Linked DNA regions of Homo sapiens: region 1 is linked to region 2. Evidence: fine-mapped expression QTL. A gene starts in region 2. The other region holds a variant in brackets. All regions are shown on one strand. Distances are from middle to middle.

Region 1 (8,332 bases), 57 kb after region 2:
CGTGGTGGTGGGCGCCTGTAGTCCCAGCTACTCGGGAGGCTGAGGCAGGAGAATGGCGTGAACCCGGGAGGCGGAGCTTGCAGTGAGCTGAGATCGCGCCACTGCACTCCAGCCTGGGCGACAGAGCAAGACTCCGTCTCAAAAAAAAAAAAGAGTGAGTGAAGGAAAAGGTGTGCAGGGAGCAGAAAAGTGGAGGGCTGGCTCAGGGTTTGGAGACTTGTCCCTCAATTCCCACAACGGAGACTTGGGAGGACTGGGTGGGTCCTGAAAAATTAGGTAAAGCAGAGTAGGTTGCCCGGTATTAATTCAAAAATAACATACCGGCCCACCTGCCACCATCAGGGTTACCCTTGGCTTGGATGAAGTGATGGTAGTTGCCAGGGCGTCTGTTCCAGGGCACCCTCAGTCTTCAGCGGCAGGGCCGATGAGATCCAAGTAGGAGGTTTTGGCCGGCTCCGGAAGGGATGGGGGCGGTCCTTGCTGGGGCTGCTCATAGTCCGACTTCCAGTGGGGTCCTCCGCAGAGGGGGCACGGCCTGGTGCGCTTACCTGGGTTTGGGCATTGTCTGGACCTGTGACCTTCATTGCCGCACTTGAAACAGGCGCCAGGTGGAGGTGGATTGCTAGGAGGCTTCCGTGTGGAGCTATGGCCCCGTGGGCCTGCAGGGCCCCTGATGGCAGAGGTAAGCATTCGAAACTCTGCCTGTTTTTGCCTTTTACTTTCCTCATCACGATTGTTAAAGACTTTGAAGGCTAAATTTAGAAGGTCTCATTGTGGGGTTTGAGGGCCGTCATCAAGCTTCTGAAGCTTGTGCCGAATATCGGTGGTGGATTGGGAGATGAACCGAAGGTTTAAGATAGTGGTTCCTTCTGGGCTAGCTGGGTCTAGGTTGGTATATTTTTTAATGGCTTCAGTTAAATGAGAGAGAAAAAGGGCTGGGTTTTCATTAGGACCTTGGGTGATTTCTGAAAGTTTTTCATAGTTTACCGCTTTATGGGCACCCTTTTTGAGTCCTGCAAGGAGACACACAATTATGTGGTTTCAACGGTGGCATCCAGAGGCCCTGTCTTGATAATCCCAGTGGGGGTCCTGGTTGGGGACTGCCTCCGCACCAGTAGGCTGGGCAGGAGCTTGGTGATGAATGGTATCAGCATGTGCCTGAGCTACAGTCCAGATACGGTCTTGGTCTTCTGGGGTGAGGGTGGAAGAGAGGATAACCTAGAGGTCATGCCGGGTCAGTTCATAAGACTGGGTGAGGTACTGAAATTTTCTAATATAAGAGGTAGCATCTTCTGGAAATGAACCGAATCTTTTGTTAATTTGAGAGAGATCAGTGAGGCAGAAGGAAACATGAACTCTAACAATACCTTCATTTTCTACTACTTTCTGAAGGGGGTATTCTAGCACCGGCGCTGAAGTAAGGGCGGGGCATGGGCCAAAGATGGCGCCCGAGCGAGTAAGGGCAGGAGAGAAGGAAGAAGCTGGAAGTGGTTTCTGCTGAGGGTTTGAAGGGGGAAGGGTGGTTGAGTTGATAAGCAGTGGAGGATAGGGGCGTAAGGTGGTGGGATGGGTTTACAAGCCTCAGGAGAGGGCGGTGGGGGAGGAGAATGGGTACAGGCAATACTAGAATTGTCCTGAGTAGGGGACGGTGTAGGAAAAGAAGTGGATACTGCTTACTGAGAAGATGGCGACTGGGAAGATGGCAGCTGAGAAGACAACGAGGAGGCTTGCAGGGGTTAAAGAAGATGGTTGAGAGGAAGAGGTAAGGGCTGGGAGGGGTGGACAGCAGTCTGCTGGATTTAATGAGGAAAAAGAGGTAGGGTCGGGAAGAGAAAGGCGATCAGGGTGGCAAGAATGGAGAAGGATTTGAACAGGTAAGAAAGAATTGCAGAGGTTGGGTTGTGATTTGAGAATAAAAAGGCCTGGACATAAGGAACTTCTCATTTCTTCAGTTGTCAGCAATAATTGCTTAAGTCAGTTAAAATTGTAAAGTTGAATGTTTCATTTGCGGGCCATTTGGACCCATTATTTAATTCGTATTGTGGCCAGACTGAATTGCGAAAAAGACACAGCACTTAGGGCAGATATCTTGCCTGAGGCCTAAGGTTTTTAGGGTTTTTTTTTATGAGGCAGCCTAGAGGGCTGTCCTTTGGAGTGGAAGACTGGGAATTTCCCACAACAGAGGGTAGGCTGAGAGAACAAGGAAGAGGAGAACATCCTGGACAGCAAGAGGGGGACAATAAAAGGAGCAATTGTCACTGCTGCCATTTTCGTTCCCAGAACAGGATCTAATGGCTTAGAGGCACCCCCCTAAGGCCAGATGATCAGCAAGTGCCTGACACACACCGGAACCTTCTTGGACCAACGTTGGATTTTTGGACCAGAGAAATCAAGAGAGGCCATGTGGATTTTCCCCTGTTAACAGGGCTCCCGGGAAAACTTACCAGTAGGCGAGATCAGTGACCGATGTGCATGCACAGAGAGGCAACTGGAGGCTGAGGAGCTTCCTTTGTCCGGCTGCTGTGGCTTGCTCTCCGGGGTGGAGGGGTAGGTCCACAGGGGATGCAGACCTGAGCCCCTCCCCGGTTTTGGCACCTGACTTAAGGTTCTTGTATCGGTTCGAACCCGGAGAGCGCGCGTTCGAACCAACAGACAACACGAGGCGGTGTGGAGCAACATGCTGTTTTAATGAGTTCCTGGGTGCAGGCGGGCTGAGGCCTAAAATGGCATCAGCACCAAGTGAGGACAGGGCAAAGATTTTATAGTCTCCTGTAAACAGGAAGTGTCCTAGTCTGACGTAACTGCTACGTTGTACCTGGATGGCCTCTTTCTTGATCTTCACGGGTACGTGTCTTCCAGCCAGGGTAGGTGTCTTCCGGCCGGCTTTCTTCCTGCTTCTGCTATTTTGCTGGCCCACACTGCTGGCGCAAGGCTTGCGCCTTGGTACTGGGCCTGAGAAGGGAGGAGTTATTCATCCCCTTAAGCTTTCAGGCCCCAGGGAGAATCTTACACTACTGGGCTGCATTTCCAGACAATTAGGGCATTCTAAGGCACAGGATGAGGTAGGAGGTCCGCACAAGATACAGGTCATAAAGACCTTGCAGATAAAACAGCTTGCAGTAAATAAGCTGGCCCAAACCCACGAAAATCAAGATTTTGACCAGAGTGACCCTCTGGTCATCCTCACTGCTACACTCCCACCAGCATCATGACAGTTTACAAACACCATGGCAACGTCAGGAAGGTACCCTATATGGTCTAAAAAGGGGAGGCATGAAGAATCCACCCCTTGTTTAGCATATCATCAAGAAATAACCATAAAAATGGGCAACCCCTATGGAGTAGCCATTATTTTATTCCTTTACTTTCTTAATAAACTTGCTTTCACTTTATGGACTCGCCCTGAATTCTTTCTTGTGCAGGATCCAAGAACCCTCTCTTGGGATCTAGATCTGGACCCCTTTCCAGTAACTGTATTACTGACCATCAAAGGAAACCCCATCTGAGCAATGGGTTCCAGACCCCCATCTCTAATCGTGAGCCCCATCCTGGAAGTCACTTGTAATAAGGAAAGTTATTCCATAAGCTGGTCCTGCCACTACCCCTACAGGTTTCAAACACCCACCCTCCTTTCCAAAACCAGACCCAGGTTACTGTGGTCACCTACTGGTGACTTCATTTGCATCTGGTGGTCAGATCTAGTCAGGGTGTAATTCGGCTAAATTAATAGTGCTAATAGTGCAAATTCCTAGTGCGTTTTACAGGTGGGGAATAGAGGGTGAGAATTTGGGATTTAAAACTGGCATTTCAGAAATGCTGTCACATTAGAGCTTCATTTCAGTCCCTTGGGGTGGCCACCAAGTAAACAGCTCAATTTCCATCCCTGCTGGAGGTACAGAATGCAGCATTCACACTTGCCAACAG[A/T]TAATGTCTCCTGTCTTTGTCGGTGCTTAATGGCTTTTAGTAGAGTTAAGGCTGAGAAGAAAGAGACTGACTTCCTCTTATTGGGTAAAATGGAAACACTGGGGAGACAATTCCATTTCAGACAGACCCTTTCCTTCTCAGATTACTGATCCACAACCCAGCCAACTCCCTTTCAGCTCATTCAGGTAACATGGAAGACAGAGGCCACCCGCTTAGGGGAGAGGAGGGTGGAAGAGCCCGTTGAGCTTTGTGTTTGGGATTTGTCAGCAGAGAGGAGATTTGCATTTCTAATAAGAGCCCCGTCTGGGTGTGCTTTAGCCCAGTGGCTGCACATCTCTGTAGCTCTCCAAGTGCTCTCAGTTTGCAGAGCAAGGGAAGAATCTTCTACAAAAACAAATAGCTGTGGGAAGAGAGCAGAAAGCACAGCACAGTGGGGTGCCAGGGGCACTTCCTGGGTATCAAGGAACGTTTAAAAATGGTATTACATCAAGTCACCACAGACACCCTGGCGAATATTCCTCGTGTGCCCATCCCTCACATGCCCTTTGTCTATGTAAGAGAAACTCATTACATGTTCTACTCTGAGATTTGGAGATTTATTGTTATTTCTCCAAAAAGAAGTAACGAGGCATGTCAGTCCCAGCGTGTTTATACAGCAGAAAACTGGGAAAAGAAAACAAGGTTCAACAAGAGGTGAATAGTACGATAATTAAACAATTAAATAAATAAATGGTTAAATACGTGGTAGAAACCTTTCGATCATATATGAAGTCTACAGTATTTAGTAATGTGATTTTTTTTTTTTTTTTTTTTTGAGACAGAGTTCACTCTGTCACCCAGGCTGGAGTGCAGTGGCTCGATCTCGGCTCACTGCAACTTCCATCTCCCAGGTTCAAGCGATTCATTCCTGCCTCAGCCTCCCGAGTAGCTGGGACTACAAGCACGTGCCACTACACCCAGCTAATTTTTGTATTTTTAGTAGAGACGGGGTTTCACCTGTTGGCCAGGCTGGTCTGGAACTCCTGACCGCATGATCTGCCCGCCTTGCCCTCCCAGAGTGCTGGAATTACAAGCGTGAGCCACCATGCCTGGCCAATGTGATTTTTTTAAAGTGGTAAATGTTAAATGAAAAATGCAGGATTCATACTGTATATATAGTTTTTATTTAAGAAAAACACATAATGCATGATGAAATTACAGCAAAATGTTAACAAAGTTGAGATCTTTAGAGATCAAATCAGAAATTATTATTTTTCTTTCTTTCATTTCTACATGTATTCCAAAGGGTTTTTCGTGTATGATTATAGAAGTTATATGTTGGAGCAGGGAACCCCACTATACCCTCATTACTTTTTTTTTCCCTTCCTTCTTTTTTTATCTTGGGCACACACTAGAATGTGGCATTGCTCTCTGTGGGCCCATCCGCACTCCATTCAGCCAAGTATTCTATTGCTAACAGAGAACAGAGCAGGTTGCACAAGCAATGGACAAAATCTGAACATTTCCAACTTCCCTCACCCCATCATTCACTCACCCATGAGTTCATCTAAACCCTTCTTCCACTTGTTTATATTTTTAGCTGGTACAGCCTCTCGGGCCCAGTGACTTCCATGTGTTTTCCACCCTCGGTGTGAAGTGGCAGAGGCCTGCCCGGCTCGTATCCTCAGATGACCTCCTTTGGACTCCAAGGGGTCCTCCCTGTTTTTTACCTTTCCAGCATTAAGGGAACAAAATAAGAACCTCAATGATATGTTTGCAATTAGCAAAGCACACTTATGGACATAATTTTGTAGAACTATAGAACTTGGTATTGGAAGAGGCCTTAGGAACAGTTTAGGCCAGTGTTTTCCTAAAAGTCCACAATACAGGGAGTATTTCCAGAAATCACTGCAAGTTGTACAGTCCCCAGGATATGGTGGCACGGGGTGGCATGGGATCGTGGGGGGTTTGGTTTTGTTTTTGCTTCGGGCTGCAATTGGATAACAATGGTTACCTCGTTTTGTTCAGAAACTCCAGCAGTTATACATATGCCTGGTTATTTTGTTAATAGATAATTAATGTATGAGAGACAGAATCTTTTAAACTTTGTGTTGTGGAGAAGGTGGACATTGATGGGACCCTCTATTCTGAGCTAGATCTGTGAGTGGAGAGGTCACTGCCTGAAGGTTGAGAAATATATATTCTGGCACTTCACTGCCTGAAGGGTGAGAAAATGGGCTCTGAAGTGGCTCCCTGACCCCAGCAGAAGAGGCTGGTACATGGGGCCACTGGACTAGAATCCAGATTGTCTGACTCTAAGTGCCAGGCTAGCTCCAGGGCACCTATTCTACCTTTGTTTAAACCAACTTCCTGAGACGTGCTTCCTGCACTAGGAATAATTTAGTAGATTTTGAATTTGTGCATGCTCCAAGTGTGGTCTTTCCAGACTGAGTCTTCTGTTTAGAAAATGATTAATTATTGTAATTGCCTAAGTCCTTTACTCTTCCCACAGTTACTCTTTCCTAACTGTGGAAATACAGACTTCCAAGTTTGGTAGAGTGTCGTGGGAAAGAAGGTAGGTTCTGGAATCAGACACCCTAGGTTCAAATCCTAGCTCTCCCACTCGCCAGTCCCTGATCCCAGGTTTAACTTCTCTGTGCATCAATTTGCCCAACTGCAAAATGGGAATAATGATAGTATCTACCTTAAAGGGCCGTTGTGAAGATTAACCATTGTGATGAGTGCTTGTCATTACATTGCATAGAAAAAGTGCTTTACGTTAAAAGTGGCTTACATTACACTTGTCATTACATTGCACAGAAAATTCATTACAAGCACAGAAAGTACTTGTCCCATGCCTCATGCTCAGTGCATACTCAATAAATAAGAGTAGTCACCATCGTCACTGTCATTGTCATTACTGTTGGGTTTTCATGGAAGGACCCTGGCCAGAACAGTGTCAGCTTAAACTTATTTTGCTTTGCTGGACCTGTGGCCATTACTTCCTTTTCTGTGTTGTTTGCTTTATCCTTTAGAGAACAATTAAACCTCTCCCCATTGTCAGTACCCATTTTAAAGAGCAAGACCCTGAAATCCAGTGTGACTTGCTCAAGGTCACTCAGCTTGTCAGGGCAGAGTGGGAGGAAAAGCCCGAATCTCCTGTTCACCTGCCAACAGCTCTTTGCACCATGGTGCCATGTTTCCTCTGCATGCCTCCGTTCATCCTCCACACCCGGAAAACACAGAGAAGCAGGAGAATCAGCCAGATACATGAAAACTCTTGTTTCGAACACTGAGCATTGACTGTTTACCTGGCCCTTGGTTCTTGTCTTTCTTTCGTTTTAGCAGCAGCATTACGTACTGCTGCCAGGTGGAGCGTTGCTGGTTCCTGCTTCCCCTTCCTCCCTGCCTGTCTTCCCCTGACACTTCCCTGCAGGAAACCACTAGCCCTAATGAGAACTCTCAAACGGTGGAGCAGATGACAAAGGCGCTAGAGGCCTGGGGATAGCGGGAAGTCAGCCGGTGACTTCCGCCTGGTTTAAAGCCCGTGTCTTTCCTGTATTCAATCCAGTGGCGCATCATAAGAATTCCCTGAAGCATTTAGCCACCTGAAAGGCCTTCTCTAAGGCCTAGAGATCTCCCTATCCACCACTTCCTGAGCACACCTTGCAGGTGCCAGACATTTTGGGGTTGCAAAACCCACCTCCTGCCTCACAGTAGGGAGTCAGGAACAGACCGTGAACTACACAGAGTTCTTGTACATACAGGGCACTTGGAGGGTCGGGGGTTGGGGGGCAATCCAGGCAGAGGGGCAGCCTGAGCAGAGAGGCACAGTGTGAGTTCACATTTAGCAGGCAGCTGAATGCTTAATTGTTCTCTGATTGCTTTGAGGGTGTTTCAGCCCTCCAGCTAGAGAGAGTGGTTCTGGCTAGACATGGTGATGAAGCCTCCCTTTCCTCCCAAGCCCCTGCTTTTGTGGAGCTGATTGACAGCTCGGAAAGCCTCTTCATGTATGTGATTGTATTTGAGCCGCTAAGCGTCTGTGTGAGATCAGATGTTATCCCCCATTTTACAGATGAGGAAACTGAAGCCCTTAGATGGTAACTCAGTGGCTTAGCTACCCAGTGACAACCTAAACTTGTACTGAGATATGAAGTCTCAGTATGAGATATGAAGACTCCAAGTCCTCCCTAGCTCTCTCCCTTATGGTCAGCTCTGGGGAAATGTGCGCAGACATAGTGCTTGACTGTAGAGCCCACTCTTAGAGACACGAAGAAGGAACAAACAAATGAGCACGAGCTCCTGGGGCACAGTGAGAAGGGCACTGGCTTTGGAAGCGAGACCTATAGCTCAAGTTCCAGCTCTTCCAGGCATGAGTTGCATGGACTTAGGACAGTCATGTCTCTTTATGTGGGACTCGGTTTCCCTA
Region 2 (8,332 bases):
TTTGGTGCTACCCTGTCTCTAATAACCTTCTAACACCTTTCCCCTCCATCTCTACCTTCTGCAAATAAGAGTATCTAGCTAGCTCAATAGTGCTGTTTTTTTTTTCCCATGGTTATTTTCACTGTTACCTTTCATTGGTTCATTTGAAAATTCAATATTGGATTTTCTTGTTTCTATTGTGACAAAAGGCTTCTTTAGTATTAGTATGAAATAAGTGCATTTAAGTTTTAAAAATGTGAATCAATGTAAATAAAATGTTTTCTTTTTTTTTTTTTTTTTTTTTTTTTTTGAGACAGAGTCTAGCTTTGTCACCAGGCTGGAAGTGGTACAATCTTGGCTCACTGTAACCTCTGCCTCCCCGGTTCAAGCGATTCTCCTGCCTCAGCCTCCTGAGTAGCTGGGATTACAGGCACTCACCACCACACCTGGCTAATTTTTTTTTGTTTTTAGTAGAGATGGGGTTTCACCATGTTGGCCAGGCTGGTCTCAAACTCCTGACCTCAAATGATCCACCTGCCTCAGCCTCCCAAAGTGCTGGGATTGCAGGTGTGAGCCATGACCCTGGCCAAATAAAATGTTAAATTAAAAATACTATAGGTAGTTCCTTTGCTACTGGGACAAAATTGGTGAAGGGGGTTTGCACATGAGTTAATTTGCAAGTCACAAGTATAGTGGGAAGCAGGCAGGATTTGTAATCAATCAAATGTGGGCTCAAGACCTGCTTCTAACTTATCAGCTGTATGGCCCATGGATAATTCATAAGCTTCTATAAACTTGTTTTCTCCCACAAATTAAGGAGACAATATACTATTCAGAAGGTTGTTTAAAAGATTAAATTACATAAAGTATAAGAAGCACCTCCCAGGCAGCCATGTACATGGTGGGCACTTGCACTCCCTATCACAGTGTATATCCTTAAATAATGGAAACCTCTGTTTTTGGCAACACCAAACAGGAACTTAACTCCAGTACCTACTGAGTATCTATGCTTGATAAATGAGTTCTTATTTGCTTAGGATCTGGGACCTGTGGCGCGGGATCCTTCATGAGCAACAACTAAAATCAAGAAAAGCTTTGATTTGGAGAGTGGGCCAGCTCAGGCATCATGGACCAAGAGGCCTCTCTACCCCTTGTCCTGGCCTCCAATATTTCACAATGCTACCTATACCCTGCAGAGTTCAGGGGGAAGTAGATCTGAAATATTCAGATATATGTGCAAATAAAGACACGGATAATAACTCCCATTTTATTTATCTATCACTGTGTAATAAACCACCCCAAAAGTTAATAATGTTAAACAACTACAGTCTTATGATCATCTCATTATTCTGTGGGTTGACTAGGTGGAGCTGGATGGTTTTCCTCTACATAATGTCAGGTGAGACTAGAGTCAAGTGGGAGATCGATTAGGCTGGAGCATCCAAGATGGCTAAAGTCTGTGTATTAATCAGGATCTCAGGTGGAGCTATTGTCCCTATCACCTTTGTTTTCACTCCATGTGGCCTCTCCATGAAACTTCGGCTTCTCACAGCATGGCAGCAGGACCCTAAAAGGAAGGAAACAGAAACTGCCAGTCTCTTAAGACTTGGATTTAGATGTCTCAGAATATCACTTTCATTGCATCCAAAGCAATCACAGGACCAGTCCAGATTCCAAGGGAGGGGAAGTAAACTCCACCTCTTAATGGTGATGTATTTTTCAAAAAAGGAAGGAAAGGATTGAAAAAAGCCATCTTAGAAGACTACCACACCTCCTAAAGCTTTCACTTTTTGCAAAAGGTTTTTATTCTTGAAATGTGTGTATATTTCAACTAAGCAAATATGTACCTAGGAATTTATCCTAAGGAAGTAATCGCAGATGATTCAAAAGATCTGACACAAGGTTGTTCATTGGAATAAAATTGAAACTACCCAATGCCCAACAACAGGGGACCAATTAAGTCCAAAGGTGGTTGAGGACAGTGTTTTAAAAGTCTATTCTCTGGGAAGCAGGTAAAATTAAGCTTAAATTCCAACTCCATTACTTAGCATCTGTGTGATGTCGAGCAAGGTACAGTACTTAAGCTCTTTAAGTCTCAGTTTCTATATCGGTAAAATAAAGACAAAATATAGATTTTTGTGATGATTCAATGAGATGATACATATAAAAGGCTCAGCACATGGTAAATGATCAATAATTGTGAACTGCTATTATTATTTATGATAGTCCTTAGTGCTATCATATTAGTGCAAATCTTTCCCATTCTCTCCATTTCCAGGCACACAATACTTCCATGGATCTTTACAGTTAACTTTGTGTTTAGTTCTGACCAATGAGTTGTAAGTGAAAGTGGCATACGTTACTTCCTGGCTGAACATTTACTTGTCCAACATTATTGATTCTGAAGCTCCTAAATACTGTCAGATAACGGTCTGTCTACTCCATGAGTATACTTCAAGCAAACAGGGATCATACCACATAAAGCAAAAGCCACCTTTGTCTTATTCCTCATTGTTTTCTCTTTATATGGTGCAAGTTCAGTCCATGCTAAACTCTGAACAATTTTAAAACACTGCAACACATCAGAAGCCCCTCATCCTTGCTAGTGTCCATGAGATCCAAGTGCTCTGAAGATATGAGAACCCAGCAGACTGTTTAGAGGGTTACCTGGCTTCCCTCCCACCTGGCCCATTCCACCCTACATACAATCTGTCACCCAGCCAGAAGCAGGTGGCAGTGAGGTGGCAGCAAGGGAAACTTGGCTTATAGAAAACCCTCCTAAGTGATTGATCATCCAGAGGAGGTGCAGCCTCAAAATAGGAATAGCTTCGTTAAGGTTTGGGTAATTTCCATGGAAACAGACAGAACTAGACTTATTTTAAAGGGGGGGGGGGCAGGGCGTGGAATAGCCTGCAAGGGGCATAATAAGGTAAGCGATGTAAAAATGTTGAAGTTGGTGTGGCCGGCGGGACGGGACAAGGCGGGGGAATGGGGGGAGGGTCCCATATTTTTTTCTTTTCTTTTTACAATTTTGGTTCACCCTGGGTGAGGCAGAGGTTGGGAGGAGATCAGGCAGCGGTAAATTCTGATGTTGATGGCAAGTAAATTAGGTTCTTAGCCGGTACCAAATGAGGCTGAGAAAGATGTGGCCCAAGCTGGATTACAGTCATCAAGAAGTTAACAGAATCCTGTAAGAGCCCCTCCAGGTCGCCTTTCAGGTCCGCGAGCATCACGCAAGAGACTCCTTCCCAGGATAGAATCTTGTTTTATGGGCGGTTAAAATGCAAACAAACAGACCCTACATCAGCAATAACCGAACAAACAGGTGCAGGCCATTAAGAAAGTTTTGCATATGAGCTGTTTTAATTTTTGTTGCAAAGGATTTCTGGGGAGTCAAGGGGTATGTCAGAAATTAGAGCCCTAGGGCAGAACTTACAAAAACCTTTTAGCTACTTCCTTCTCCCCGGCCTCGGAAATGAAAAAGCCAAAAGGTCACCCAGCGCATCCGCCACCCAGTCAGCCCCAAGGCCAGCCGTCCTCACCCCAGTCCGGGTCCTCGCCATTGGCCTCTCCGCTGCACACGGCCACCTGTTGATGCCCTCGCGCCCACAGCCGAGTTGCAAACGGCCGCTAGAGTTCGTTCTAATTCCCCAGAGCAGAGCTGCCCGGGAAGCCCCGACGCGACGCGCCTGCTAATCTGCAGGGCGGGCGGGGACTCCGCAGAGCCTCCCAGCCCCAGGCTCCCTTTGTTTTCTCGCTGCGCTCGAAGCTTCTAAACTAGCCCCCAGACCGCATCCCCTCGTCCCCGCCCGGGAGCTGCCCAAGAGTCCACAGGCCAGCCCAGGGGGAAACAAGGTACATCTGGGCAGGAATGCGCGGCGCAGACAGGTTGCCGCCTGAGATCCCGAAGTGTACCCAGATCCCGAATTCCTTAGAGCTCTTTAGCCGAGCACTGTGGCAGGAGCGCGGCGCCCGGAATACAAGTTCATGGTTCCGAGCCGGCGGGCGAAGGGCAGCGCGATCCCCCGCCACCTTTGCTCTAAGGCGCCTAGGGGAACCTGGGGGCTGCCGCGGTGAGAGCTCCGCTCCCACTGGGAACATTGGAGTCCCAGTTGCGAAAGCGACCCGCCTAGCTTCCGAGGGACTTCTCTGCGAGCACCGCAGGCGTGTGCATTTCTTCGAATCTGAGAATTCCAGCGAACTCGGGCTCTACCAGAGTTTAAGTCGGCCCCTGGGGCGTCTGTTTGTTTATTGGCTCTTAAGGGAAAAAAGTTTGAAGATCTTTAACCAGCCTCAGACCTGGCGCGGGCGGAAATCCCGGAATCTCCCCAAGCAAAAGTGATATAACTTCAAGTCGTTATATAAGTGGGGGGCTCCTTCTTCCCCTCCCTACGCCGAGCCTTCTCATTATCATTCCGGGAGTAAAATGTGTCTCGCTCAACATAGTTTTAAAATCGTTATTATTATTTTCCTGAGCCTGAAGCCGGGCCAAGGCGCAGGCAGCGCCCAGGGTGCGTGGTGGCCCCACCCGCGCACAGTCCCACGCAAAGGGTCCCGGGGCCCGGGTACCGCCAGAGCCGGGCCTGCAAGCGCGCCCTTCGGTCCCACGGTCCGCCACTCCACGTGGTCAAGATCAACAGTTTGTTGAGCTCATCAGTGACACCTTGAACTTTTCATAAAGAAAATGGGTATTGCACGGAGACGGTTTGGCCGCGGCCGCCGCGCGGGGTCGTGCTTAATATTCAATGATCTCGCTCGCGCCTCCCCCTCCTCTTCTCGCAGAAATTCCACCGAGTCCGTTACTGGGCTCAGACTTTTAAGTTAATTTACTGCCCCCCTACCTTGGCCAGTAACCAGCGCCTTTAGGGCTAGCCTCCCCCCCAGCTCCTGCCTGAAAAATGACATTTCGCCGGTGTCTCCGGAGGGGGCTGAATTTCACTTTGTAACTTTCTGCGGAACCCGAGCCCGGGTGGCAGCTCGGGTGGTGGTATCGTATGCAAATACGCATGCTGACGTTACAGATCATGTGGGTTTTGGCGTAGATTCCCCACTGATCGAGGCATTTTTTTTCCCTTTTTTTTTCCTTTTTTTTTTTCTTTTAAAAATTTTGGCCATCGTTCTCCGTACGGGGGCTTTTTCTGTCTGTCTGTCTGGCTGGCAGGCTGGCTTTCCCCCTCTTTCCCACGGAGCCCGAGCCGGGCGCCCGGTGGGGAGTGGGGAGTGGGTGGGGGGAGCCAGCAGAGTTCCATTTTGGAACGCCCGTGCCGCGTCTCCGCGTTCCCAGCCCGGGTCCCCGCGTTCACAGCCCCAGCGCAGGTAAGAAACTTCGCCTCGGCGCGGAGCCCCCCAGCCGGCGCCGCCGGCCCCAAACCCCGCACGCCGGGCGCCGGCCACTCCAGCCCAACTTTCCCACCGCCGCCGTCGCCGCCGCGGCTCCCGAAAATGTGTTGTTAATGGGACTTGGCCGGGTTTGTGATTGGAAGGGGGGTACGGAAGGGGGGGGGTGTGCAGGCTCTTTTTGCGGGTGGGAGGAAATGAGCGGATACAGAGAGGGAAGAAGATTTTTTTTTTAAGAGTTTTGATTACAAGTTTGGATAAATGGGAGCCAGAGCGAGGAGGAGGAGGAGGAGGAGGAAAAACATGTCTACGTTTCCCTATGTCGACATAAGCCACAAAAAAATATGGCGTCCGCTTTCGACAGGGCGTTACGTAGACCCGACTGTTTTTATTTATTTATTTCGTGGCCGTCTCCCTCCCTTCTTGGCCAAACTGCGGCGCTTTGTGCAAACGGGGCAGGTCCCGCGGGGACTCCACCGGGACGTGGCCCCGTCTCCGCGCGTTTTGGCAGGCGGGGGGCTGCGTGTGTCTGCTCCCCTCCCTCCCCCTCTCCCCTCGCTCCCCTCTCCCGGTGACGATTCGCCGTAATGTGGTGGCAGGAAGCATGACGCCGTGGGCCGAGGCTGCCTCTGCTCTCGTCGCTCCCGGCGGCTGCAGGCAGCGGGCGCGCAGCGCGGGCGGCAGCCGAGCTACCTGGCGGGGGCAGGGCCGGAGCGCGGCGCTGTCCTCACCCCCGCTCAGGTGCAGGGGGAGTCCGCGCGGGGCGGGGGGCCGAGGGCGGCCGCGGGACCCCCGGCCCTGCTGTCCGCTGCCAGCTGGCCGGAGCCTCTGCCAGCCCGAGCCCACGTTCGCCCCCCTGAACGGCAGCTGGCGCTTTTCGTCTGCCCCACAAGAGGTTAATCTTTGTTGGTGTTGCAGCTTCTTTGTGGCTTCCCCAGGACTTGTATCCTCGGCTTTGCAAACTTGCCCTTTTCCCAGCCGCTTTGCAGGAGGCTGCGGAGACGAAGATGAGCGGAAAGTTGGAAACCAGCAGGCATCACAGGACGGTCCCTTTGGCCTCGTAGCTGTGCTGAGCCTGGGAGGCGGAGGAGGAGGTGGAGGCGGCGGCGGAGGAGGGTTTGTCAGGCTGGGGAGAAAACTTGATGAGGAAGCCAAATTGTGATTTGTTCAGGTTTCCACCTGATTGATAGTCTTCAAAGCCAGTAGGTCTCTACCTTCAACTGTTTCGCGGTGGCCTTTTGTTTGTCTGGGGCGTGGAGAAGGAGAGAAGTCGATGAATAAGGACTTTCCCTCGACCCCTCCCCTTTTAAAGAGTGGTTGCTCAGCTTGGCCCCCTGGGACACTGCCTTTTAGGCCCTGGAGTTCTTCCCCAACCTGCTCTCTGATCACTTTCTCTCTGTTAAGTTACCAGATCTCCAGGTCTCAGGCAGGCCCCGATGAGCAGAATGGAGTTAGAGGAGAGGATTCCTTCCCCCAGCACTTCTTGAATTGCCCAGACCTCCCACAATTACCCTCTTAAAACCACACACACACACACTTACTCACTCTCTCCTTTATATATGGCAGAAATTAATGCCTGTAGAAGTGAAGGGGGTGAGGTTCTGAGAGCTCTTCAAGATTTGAGTCAAAAGGTGATTTTCTGTTTATGAGGGCAGCGAGTTTAAGCAGTTCACTCCCAGGGCAGTAATGTCAAAAAGCGTTTGGATGACGACCAAGTGGAATAAATATCTTGTAAAATGGCATGTTTAATAGTAAAAATAGATTAATGGAGCTGTCAAGTGGTTGAATGGGACTACCATAAAGGTTTAAGTTTAAAGGGAAAGTTATGTAAAGCTGTATACACAGCTTCTTTTAAGGCCAGAAGGGAAAAAATCTACAAGTAAGGCTGAAATGTGTCACTGACAATAATTGGACTGGTGATGTGTGGAAATATCATCGCTGTTTAAATGCTCTGCTCCGCGATTGTTCTCTTGCGCACTTGTACCTTTCCTTCTAGCCAGGTTTGCTGTCAGCTAAAGGATGCACCTGAAGATTGTGCTTCAGGGGAAAATGCAAGAAACCAAGATTCTGGGGCACATCAGCTATCTCAACTAATGTCCATTTGAAGGGGGAAAACACCACTGTTTGTTGGCACTGAAGAAAGGGTATTCCTGTGATGTAAGTGCAGTGTATCTTGACATGCTGAAAGGTGGCCCCACCCGGCGTTTCTCATCCACATCAGGACCATGTGATTTGGTGGGATGCTGTACACTTATCAAAAATAATCATGGCAATGTTTGATAACAGTTTCTAACACTGTTATGGTGTGTGAGGCACAATGCTGTATATTTTACGTGCTTTATCATTTAATTCTCACCACAATCCTGTGAGCTAAGTACTACTATTATCCTCCGTTTATGGTTGAGGAAACAGAGGCTCCAAGAGGTGAAGAAACTTGCCTGAGCGACACAGCAAAAAGCAAATCCAGGCCTAACTTCATAGCCTTAACCAGTCCATTGTAGCAGCATTCAGATACACGACGTCACAGTTAGAATAAAAAAGTAAAGGGTCAGGTCCAGCAGAAAAGAGGGAACAGTAGCCACTGTCCTGAGGTCCGAACTTCAGAATTTACCTGGATTTTATTCCTTTATTCATTTATTTAGCAACTGTGTGTTGATTTATTTATTCATTCAGCAACTATAATGTTCATTATACTAATAAGAACCCATAGCCATTAAGCATTTTTGTATGCCAGGCACTATCCCAAGTGCTTATGACTAGACTATTTTGTCTTCATGACAACTCTGATGTAAGTACTCTCATTCTCTCCTTTTTCTAGATGAGGAGGCACAAGCCCAGGTAAGTTAGCTAACTTGCCCAAGTCCAAACAGCTAGTAAGCGGAGTGGCAGCCCCCAGAACACACACACTCTGCTGTTGCAATGCAGAGCGCATAACCAGATGTATGGAAATGCTGGGGAGACAGAGCCCCCCTGGCAGAAACGCAAAGCACTGCATGCTCCAGACATTATGGAGATG

The links.
Region 1: its variant is fine-mapped to the expression of ZHX2-AS1 in caudate (GTEx, PIP above 0.99).

The regions. Positions count from the first base shown.
Region 1 is chr8:122,833,857-122,842,188 of GRCh38, forward strand. The region is part of intron 1 of ZHX2 (zinc fingers and homeoboxes 2); the gene reads left to right. Among named protein-coding and RNA genes, the nearest start is that of ZHX2, 56 kb to the left of the region's middle. RefSeq lists enhancers at 1,915-3,114, 3,762-4,593. The variant A/T (reference allele first, on the strand shown) is at 3,925.
Region 2 is chr8:122,776,652-122,784,983 of GRCh38, forward strand. ZHX2-AS1 (ZHX2 antisense RNA 2) reads right to left here and starts at 4,953. Exons shown (of 2, transcript XR_007061082.1): 1 at 3,522-4,953; 2 at 1,233-1,546. ZHX2 (zinc fingers and homeoboxes 2) reads left to right here and starts at 5,004. Exons shown (of 4, transcript NM_014943.5): 1 at 5,004-5,295. RefSeq lists enhancers at 3,447-3,948, 3,949-4,448, 5,616-5,665, 6,321-6,855 and silencers at 5,716-5,785, 6,006-6,135, 6,916-6,995.